Linked DNA regions of Homo sapiens: region 1 is linked to region 2. The links come from fine-mapping of genetic effects on gene expression. Tissue or cell type: whole blood. Region 2 holds a variant in brackets; the other region holds the start of a gene. All regions are shown on one strand. Distances are from middle to middle.

The links. PIP is the estimated chance that this variant, and not a neighbour inherited with it, causes the effect.
Region 1: it holds the start of PKP4, and the variant in region 2 is fine-mapped to the expression of PKP4 in whole blood (INTERVAL, PIP above 0.99).

The regions. Positions count from the first base shown.
Region 1 is chr2:158,454,724-158,459,874 of GRCh38, forward strand. It overlaps PKP4 (plakophilin 4), which reads left to right and starts at 2,229. Exons shown (of 22, transcript NM_003628.6): 1 at 2,229-2,495. CCDC148 (coiled-coil domain containing 148) reads right to left here and starts at 2,030. Exons shown (of 14, transcript NM_138803.4): 1 at 1,692-2,030. The coding sequence starts at 1,716. LOC124907900 reads right to left here and starts at 3,411. Exons shown (of 1, transcript XM_047446754.1): 1 at 2,408-3,411. The coding sequence starts at 2,731. The coding sequence ends at 2,408. RefSeq lists silencers at 1,934-2,228, 1,959-2,328, 2,549-2,598, 2,849-2,898, 2,919-2,978 and 1 more and an enhancer at 3,509-3,588.
Region 2 is chr2:158,097,393-158,102,543 of GRCh38, forward strand. UPP2 (uridine phosphorylase 2) reads left to right here and starts at 4,484. Exons shown (of 7, transcript NM_173355.4): 1 at 4,484-4,733. The coding sequence starts at 4,672. The variant C/A (reference allele first, on the strand shown) is at 2,477.

The DNA.
Region 1 (5,151 bases), 360 kb after region 2:
CAAGTCTGAATAGCATGAACTTTTAGTGGAATGAAGTGATTCTTTAACCTTGTCTAGCAATGCTTAGTAGCGCAGGAGCAAGTTCAAAAGAAACCTTTCAACTAAATACAAAAATAAACAAAAAAATTAATGTTGAGTGGCAACTTATTTCAGGGGACATTATTCATGGTGGATTTCAGTAACATTTTAATTATGACAAACACGAAATCTACAATATCAAAATAGTCATCTGAGAAAAACACCCACACAAAAAGATTATTGGAGTAATAATCTTTTATTTTCTTCTTTCTATGCTAGCCTAAGGCAAGAGAAAAGACCCATTTTTTCTTTCCATTAGACACAACTTTCATTCATTTGATGTTATTGAAATTTAAAAGAAGCAAAATCATTGGTATCTTTTCATTAAACATGTGTCTCATATAACAATTTGTGGTTTACTTTTTCTGTTCTATAAACAAAAACACACATTAAAAAGCCGGAAGAAGTAAAAAACAGCCTATTTCCATGATGGCCAGCCATGGCACAGCACTTCCTGGCCCCTGCTGATCCCTTCTCAATTCTGAAAATATTTAGGGGGAACATACACACGTTCACCTGTTTTGTTCCACAGTCCTACCCTGTGTAGGACTGTCAACTGAGTTCACATTTTACTACAAATGTGGAGAGGTTTTTTTTTTTCCAATCAAGGCACCATATTAACATTTCTTAGGTTACATCTTTGTAATCTTCAATTATAGTAAGATAAAAACCAGTAGCAAAGCATATCACCCAACTTAAAATTCAGAACAATACTTAGACATATGCAGCTTGCACACACATTAACCTGTTTCTCCCAACAAAATATTTGTAATTTCCAAAATCCTATCAGCTTTTTCACACAATATGGTCCCTCCAATTTGAGGGGTAGTAACATAGTCTCCTTACTAAAGAGATTAGTCTAAAAAAAGTAAAATCGCCAAAAGAATGTAAGAATATCAGTGGCTATAGGCTAGAGCAATATCATCTTTTAAAGCCTAATATGTTCATGAAATCTCACTTTAAGAAGGTGATATCTAAACATAAAATTTATTGACAAAAAACAATTAGTATTGATAAACCACCACAAAATGATTTTAAATGAAAGTAGAAGACATTATTAAAGCTCAAGATTTTTGCGTGTACTGATTTCATGCCTCAGGTTATTTCCATATCAAATTTAAAGAGATACTGGAAAATAGAAAACAAAATCCATCAACTGTAATCCATTTCCCTTACTCTTTTGTGAAATCATCACAAGGTGTGAAGGATTGTTTCTGTTTCCTCTATCTTTAACAAGCCTGTAACCTCTCAAGTGAAAGAACATGCACCTGTCAAGCTCATAGTGCGGGATGTACACACAGATGTGTTTAATAAATATCTGCCCACAGGGAGATTAGAGGTTTGCTTTGAGAATCAGGGAACAGGCTAGCTCATGTGTTGACGCTTTGGCATCTATCATACAATCCGCCACCTCGTTCCCTTACCAAAATATCCTCAAAGGAAATCCTCTTTGAGTCTTTCAGAAGAGTTATGAGTTTGAGGACCCAAAACGTTGAGGAAAGATCCACCCCAGGGAAGGGGGAGTGGCTGCAGAGAACAAACATAAGTAGGATTTAGGTGGCTCAGTGACGTCAGGAGGAAGCAGCGATGGAAGGGATGGGGTGCAAACTCACCTGGAGAAGCAGAAGCTGCACACATGTCAAAGGTCAAAGGGCATAGCCTCAGGGACTCCCCAAACGCAGGAAAAGTGAAACGCCCACTCCTGGGCTCTCGCCGTCAGGGGTACATCTAAGGGCTCAGCTGTTCCTACCTTTGACGCCAGGGACAAACCCTACCAGGCACAGTTGGGATTGGCAGTAAGGCAAGGAAAGCCTGCCCCAGATTTCAGAGCCAGCGCTGGGGAATCTCCCTGTCCTCTCCGCCACCCCCTCCCGCGCCCGAGACCTGAGACACCTTCTCTCTCACACCCACCCTCTCCAGGCCCTCTCGCGCTGAACAGCATCGGTCTCTATGGCGACCTGAAACCGCAGCTCCCATTGGCCTGTTCAATATGAGGGCCGGGCCAATGGGGAGGGCCAGCCCTCTCCTTCCCGCCAATGGGGTGGCGGGAGCTGGCCCGGGGACGGCGGCGTGCTGACGTTCCCGGGAGCCCGGGGCTGGCCGGGCGGGAGGGCTGGCAGCGGGGCGGGCGGCGGCGGCGGCCTCTGGGCAGTAGAGGGGGCTCCGGGGCTGAGTCCGCGTCGACGCCGGCCGCGGAGGCGGCACCATGGGCAAGGGGTAGAGGGGCAAGTTGGCCACCGCCGCCGCCGGGGGTGGTGGGAGAGCCGCTCCGGGGGCGGGGGCCGGTGGGGGAGGGAGGGGCGGGCAGCCGCGCCGCCGCGGCACTTTTTTAATTTTTTCGGGTGCCGCAGCGGCGACCCCTCGGCGCCGATGTCCCTGATCCCTGGAGCGACGACGGCCGCTGCCTAAGCTGGAAAGTAAGTGTGTGGGCTCGCGGGAGGGCGCGGAGACTCCTGCCCACGAGACCCTCGGCCCTCGCCCCGAACACGCGCCAGGGCCAGGACCTGCGCGCCGGGGGCCGGGGGCCTCCCTCCCGCTGCCGCGTCCCCAGCGCCTCGCGGCCGCCGCGGCTTTCCTGCCCCGCCTCGTGTTCCTGCCCGCACTCGCCTGCTGCTCCCCTCCCCCCGGCAGGCGCACAAGTTTCACCCTCCATTTGCTTTTCCCGGCGATTCCTCTCCCCGGTCTCCCGTACGCGCAGCGCACGACCTCTGCCCACGCTGGGCTGTTCGGATTCAGAGCTCCCAGCCCCGAACTTGAGCGCCGCGCTGAGCCCTGCTGGACGCCCTCGCGGCGGCTTCCCCGCTGCCTGCCGCCGCGCGCCCCAAGTCGCCCTCGACACCACTGGGCGCCCGCCCTCCTCAGCACTCGGGGCCGGCTGTCTGTCCTTCTAGCCCCAGATCCTGCACCTTGGTCCCCTCCCCGTCTTCCCACGCCCCTGCTGCCCGCGCGGTCTTGCGTTTGTCCCCGAAGTCCTGTACTCCTTGCCGGTCCTGCCCACCCCTCTGCCTAGTGCGCCCCTCTCTACCGGCCGCGGATCCTCACGCTCCACCCCTCCCGGCTCCCCAGCGCCGAGCCTCGCCGCTGCCCTCCTGCGCCGCCGCTTCCTCCTCTCCCTGCCAGGAGTTGAAGCGGAGCTGCGGCACCTCCCTGGCGGATCTGGTATCCCCGCCCGCTGCCGAGGCTGCCGGCCCTCTCCCCTGGACCGCTACCCGGAGAGCGAGCGGCGGGGCCGGGATTTGGCTGCGTGTTGGCTGAGTGCGACACACCGCGAGCGCGGGCAGTGGAGGTGCCGCGGCGGCCGTGGCCGCTCGGGGCGCAGCGGTAGTCAGGTGTGTGTGTACAGCGGGGGACGCGCGCTGCCGGCTCCTGGGCTGGCGACAGATTGTGCAGGAATGCGAGGAATGCACCAGGGGCAGAGTCCACACAGCCCGCCGCGGCTGCCCTAGCGCCTTCCCTCCCCAGCTCTCGCCGCGCAGCCAGAGGTCACCGGAGCATCTTCGGAGCTGGTGAGCCTCATTCCACTCCTCTCCTCCCATAGCTTCCCTCCATGCGGCAGAGGGGAAGCGCGGTAATTCTTTGGGGCTCCAGCTAGCCTTTCGTCTGGGTTTTTGCTGCATTGGTCTTCAGGACCGTGAATTTGGGGCCGATGACTGTGTAGCCAAGGTTATTGATCATTGCACAGGGCTGTTGGCAAGTTTGGTGTGCAAGGTTTGGATAGTGCCTGGTTTTCACTAGGGTTTTCTGAAAACCAGCAGAAACAGGGGGCCTGAAGGTTGTTAGAGTAATGAGCTTGCAGCCAACATATTTTAGCTCTATCAAAAAATGCCTGTTAGTGCTCACGGGCATGTACTGCGAGAGAGATCTTGAATGCATCACTTTGGTATCCTAAGAAGTGTAATTTTTTTCCCTCGTCATACTGGGCTGTGTTTAGACCTCGTATAATACATAATGAATAGAAACAGAGAAGCACTGTTCGGTCAGCGATGGGACAGATAGAACTGTCTGGTACAGTTAAATTCGGGACGTGTCAGTTACCATTGAAAGTAACACGGGGACACCACAATCATGTATATTTCAAGATGTAATTTATTAGTGGAGGTCTCAGTTTTTTCTCTTTGTTACTGAGTTTGACTGAAAAAAAAAAATAAATGCTGCCCTACAAGTTTTAAAGAACGGTAATTATTTACGTGTAAAATCAATGATGGCTAGTATGCATTTTTGGTCAAATTTTGTTTTCCTTAATACGGGAGAGCAAAATTTTGACAGAAAATGGTTCGCTAGAATTGAGCTTAGATTCTTTTTATTTTTAAAGAGAAACTAGAAGAATGCTTCTCTTCTTGAATGCAGTATATTGCTGTAGGAGTATCTTCGTTTTGGTGCCTGTGAAACAGTTATGGAAAATGGCAACATGAAAACGAGAACAACTAATGTCTGAAATAAGTGTTTCTGGGTGTTGAAAAGCATCATATGTGTGTTTTTATTTGACACAATTTGCTTTGCAGGTTGCATTTATGATAAACCTCTTTGCACCTGGTTATTTTATGTCAGATTCAGTAAAATAATAAGTCAGTTGTCTGACCAATCAGCTTTCTTCCAACACCTACTTTGTGTAGATCATGGACATTGAAAACTATTAAATAGGAGCCTTTAGTTAAGGACTCAACAGAAAGGAAAAAAAATAGAAAAAAATATTTTGCACTCAGAAACGTTTATGTTTTGGTTGCTACGTTGTTTTTCAGCTATGTGCATAATCAGTGAATCTTCTAATTTAGAGGTTTAATTTGTGTCCAGTAACACTGTGGAGGATATTGGGAGGTGTTTGTAAATGCCAACAGGAAACTTTTATTATGTAACAGTATCATATTACAGCAGTGTTTAACCCATGCTTAACCCGTGCTTTTTTGACTTGATGTCAAGATTGGGAAGTAAAAGCAAATTTAGTTTCCCTGCCGCATTAGAAATTGAAAACCCTGTTCAGATGTATGGATCACACACACACACACACACACACGACACACACACACACGATTGGCTGTGCAGATAGTTTTGCCTGCTTCAGGTAAAGGTAACCTT
Region 2 (5,151 bases):
ATAGAGAGAGTGTGTATATAATTCTGGTAAAAAATAAATTTCGTCAATCAAGAAATTTTCCTCAGGCAAATTTCAACTTTATAAAGATTCCAGATGTCAATGCCTTGTGGGTCCTGGAAAATATGTCATTGTTTTGTATTTCTAAATCTCATACACAATTATTAAAACTTTTACAACATAACCACATCTCCTGAGACTGGAAACAGGAGCTTGCAGTCCTTTGCAAGGATTAGGGGATGCTGCAATCCTCCCCAGGGCCTCAGCATGGGTCAGCCTCCACTACACCAACCCTCGGGGGAAGGTATCTGTGCAAACATTCAGCTGCCACCCCTCTGCCTGGCCCTGCCTAGAACAGCAGTGCATTTTGACAGAATTGTGGAGGGAAACACCCTCCAAAAAAGAGCAAAACAAACACCGTAGGGTTGTAGCATTTGTCCTAGGGATATCATTCTTGCTTATAATTATAATATAGTACTTTGAAACCTAATACTAATCTCTTTTTTTCTTTTCTGTATACATGGCCTTTTTCATAGTGCACACTCCCGTCTATCTGCTGGGGAATGGGAGTTAGAGTAGGAAATTAGAATTCTTTCAATAGCAATTATGAGTCCCTAATAAGGCAATGTGAGGAAAAATAAAGATTTTAGATATGTTTATACTGTCATTAACACAAAAAAACCTAGGTCTGGACTTGAACACGGAGATTGCTAGAAACCAGAGAGAACTCAGGATAGGATATAAGGGAAATTCACATAAGACAGAGAGAAAAAGTACAAAGAGGGTCTCCTCTTTTAATTATGAGAGTAAGAGGGCAGGAGAAATGGTGCAAGAGGCAGGCCAAGGTCTGCGGTGACCACCCACCCTTGGGGGTGAAAATAAAGGAGGAGGGTGCTATCCCTATCCAACTAGGCATAGGCCAGCCTGAGAACACTGCAGCCAGAGGCCTGCATCCTTCGAGGCAGCCTAAGAAAGGTTGTGATTCTCTAGGAGAATTTCCATATTCAGCTTAGGCCTGCATCCAAGATGGTGAGGGGGAGGGCCAGCATAATGCTCCCTTAGGGCCAGATGGGGCCAGCTGCATCTCAGTGAGCGCATTCAAGGACCCATAGACTACACCTAAGTAGCCACAGGTCCCTTATGAGAAAACAGCGGACAATGCCTGAGCTGCATCATCACATAGAGCCAAGGGATAATACAAGGAAATGAGCACATGGATCCAGGAGCCCTTCTCTTGCTCCTTGCTCATCCCCACCATTCCATTTTGTACGTGTCACCTCAGATGGGAGCAGTGGGCACAAGGAAGAAATTGGATGAACGCGTATCTAAAAGAAAATAAATCATCTAAATGAGACTATTTAAACCAAAGACAGAGATGCTGTTAATTGGCAAGTTTAAAAACACTGTCCTCTGCTCTATCTTCCAGGAGGGTGCGTATACTGAGAAAGACTGGATAGCTAATAGAAAATACTGTACATTTTCTTTGCACGTATATGTAATAATGTTAAACTATAACACATCTATACCATAAAAAATTGTACACTCTTAATAGCTCCCCTTTTATACAAAGGTTTTGAGGCACCTATAACCTATGTATTGGAAAATAAACACTCAAGGAAAGATCAAAAGATCTTTAATTAGTTTTAGTTATTTGTCACGAAGGAGAGAATGCTGAATTTACACTTAGTATATGTGTTTTAACATACAGAAGGTTAGTATGAGGAGTGTGGTAACTTGCGTTTTCTTTATTCATGGAATGTCAATATTTTTGTGGAAGAAAAGAAGCAAGAACTGTCTTTTTCATGCCTTTATCTTCAGCACTTCCTAGACTTCCTGGAGCATGGTGTATGCTCAGTTAATATTTATTGAATGAATAAATGAAAATATAAACTGCTTAGCCTCAGAATGGATAGCTTAGGACATTTTTGGAGCTCTCTCAAGCCATTGCTGGTGCTATGGGCTGAATGGAAGAGCCAGGGAATCTGATGTGGCAGGAGGAAAGGGCTCTTGGTTACCCCATCCCCACTCTGAGACCCGCCAAAGAAGGAGGAGATGTGAGGACTTTGCTGTGCGTTGACACCCCTACTCCCATAGGCTGTGAGGCTAGTGTGTGTGTGCATGTGTAAGGGGCAGTGTCTTCTGGGAAGGGGTGCCTGCTGCAGCCTCAGGTGAACCAATACAACCTTTGCTGATACCCCATGGAGAGACATCTAAGAATTGAGACTCTGGTCCCAGGGCTAGTCTAGCAGGCAGGGAAAGAGCACAAAAGCATGGTCTCAGGGAGGCCTAAATGCTATCCAGTTGTACATCAAGACTGTGCTTTCTTTTTCTAATATTAGAGGTTCAGGGACAAAATTAAGCCAGATAGAAAACTGTAATGGAATTGAGAATGTAATAGTGCCAGCATCATAAAGGAAGACGGTAGGAAGTGAAGTGTTTTGTCTCAGGCAAGACACCATGGAGCATGGATTTGGCAGAT[C/A]TGATGCAAGACCCTCCTGATCACAAGGCTGGACTGAGTCATGGGCTGTGCCTGGCACACAGCCTTTGTTTGCAAATTACCCAGTGGCCAGGTCTGAGTTTGCCTTGTGCACTCCTGTGTGCATAATTTTTAAAAACGAAACCTTTTCCCCTGCTCTTCAGGTGACTGGCCTTTTGCAATACAGTCAATCAAAAAGCATTGCTGAGAAACAACCTACCATAAGAGCAGGATCGAGTCTTGAGAAGATTGAAAGGTGGGGAGAATAATTTAAGACTGCCCAGAAGGCATTAACTAGTATTCTACTTTCATCAACTTTTATAGATTCCACAAGATTATTCTGAACTTCATCCAAATGACAATTACTTGCCTAAATGTCTGACCGAGTTGTTACATGGGGTCCATAAATCTTAGATGGCATTACCTGGCACTGTTAGTGATCAAGATCACTGGTTGACTGAATCTGCACCGGAAACAGACATGTTAATCAACCTAGTTAATTCACTGTGGTAATTAATTACTGAACACTTATCTAATTAGCTAACATTTTTACCTCTCAAAGCCAGAGGTAAATGCCAGATTGAAATTGGTGGTTCTCCTCATTATACCTTAAAAATAAAATTGAGAGATATGGCATGGAATATCAAATAAAGGTGTGCTGGTGCCAGCAGTAGTGAGTGAGTATGTTGAGTCTCAAAATTGCCAGTGGTTCCTGGGAAGGAGCAGCAGGTAGACCAGCCTGAGATGAGTCAGGAGGTAAGAGACAGATGTATACAAGCTATCAACAAGAACTACTGTTCTAAGTTACAAAGGCAACACACATGTTAAAGACTATTTTGCCTCATAGTCATCATTACCTTTTCCAGGATAAGTGTCCTCAGGAATTTTTTGCTATCTGGGCACAGTTGCAAACGTCTAGTTGGTGGTAACAGTGGCAAGATTTAGGCTACATGGATTCCCCAATATAGAGTCCCCTATTCTTTTTCCTTCCTATTCTGTAAACTTTGCTGTCTGACCAAGATGGACCAAAGGAGGCCAGTGGGGCATTCAAAGAATTTGCCAAGAATGACTGTCACCAGGAAGAGGAGCATCTTCTAACATGGAGAACTCAGTTAGGATATGAGCACTTGATTCTTGACTGTGATGCACATTCTTGGAAAGAAATCCAAGCATATTAGGAGGTGTCTTGTATTTGCTGCTGTTTGGCATTTATAGACATTTTAGGTTCTGATTTGCCTGAAAGCCATGAGACTACGTTCTTGAAGCTCTCACCAGCATAGAACTTCAGCTGATTGCTATGGGAGTGAAGAGAAAAAAGATCAGGATGAAGTTGTCTAGTTTTCTAGATTTTTCTGTCCCAAAAGTGAAAAGTGAGAAGCATTAGTGAAAGTAGTGAATTCATGCCTTTCTTGGCAGAGACTCCGTTTTCTGAAAATACTATGCTGTATTATTATTCCATGTGGATTAACCCCTGGTTCAATAAATTTTACCAATGGCCTACAGTTTAACTAAAGAAAGAGGCCCTGGGAAATAAGTTTTGTTTAATTATCAGTTCTTCTGTGTGAACTGGAATGAGCAAAGTTCAGATAAAGGGACATTCTGAGGTCCAGACTTTGGATGCTTCCCTAACTTGTGATGACAAAGAATGAAAACAAGTTGGCGAGGGGCTGGATGGAGATGGGGAACTGAAATGTTTGAGAACTGAAAGTTCTCGTATGTACTGGACACAGTTTTGAGAAGACCTGGTAGGTGTGTTATAGAAACCAAAAGAGGACTCGTATCCATATACAGTTGTCTCAAAGCAAATAAGCCTGTTTGCAACATCAAACCTGTGTTGGGATCAAGGACAGATGTAAGGGAAAGTTCTCACCAATAGTTAACAAGCTAACCAACCTGGTCAAAGAGCTAGGATGCCACACCTTCAAAGGGGGCCTATCTTCTTGAGGAAGTGCTGCTCTGAGAGCTGGGCTGTGGTATAAAAGTCATGTCAGGGAGGACATCTTTTATTTGATAGGAAAATTTAAAATGCTAAAGGAAAAATTTTCTTAGCAATTTCACAGGAAAACCTAAGTTTTAAGAGAGGTTATCATTCTGACTGGGAACTGAACTATTATGACTAGGTCTATAATTTAATAACAAGTCACAATATCTCTCTTTCTTGACATCAATTTAAGGTGACTTTTCACATAGTAGAGAGAATGGCTTCAGTTATACCTGCCTCCAATAGGTCCATGAGATCTGACAGGAATACATATGTTGGGTGAGTAATTTTGATTTTGTAAATTTGTTTTGATCAGATGGTTGCTCCTTGGATTTTGTATTAAATGATTAGATAATGGGCCTCTACAGTTAAGCAAATTTCTTAAATGTAGAGATTATATCACTGGATGCAGCTCATAAAGCAATAAAAACAGTGGAAAATGTATTTTCAATGACATTTTTACTCCTTGGTTTTGGGGGTTAGGGTTTGGCTCATCTAAGAAAATGGGGCAAAATAAATTATAAAAAACATGCAAAAGTTTAGCCAACCTTCAGTAGTAAACAAATTCAAGGTTCAGCCTGGGACTCACTATAGAGTTCAGCCCTTAATTCTAAGACCATGGGCTGCAAATGAGAAATAATTAAAAGGGCCTCCCAGTGCCTGAGGGAGGTTTAATTGTATTGCAGGATATTGTGGA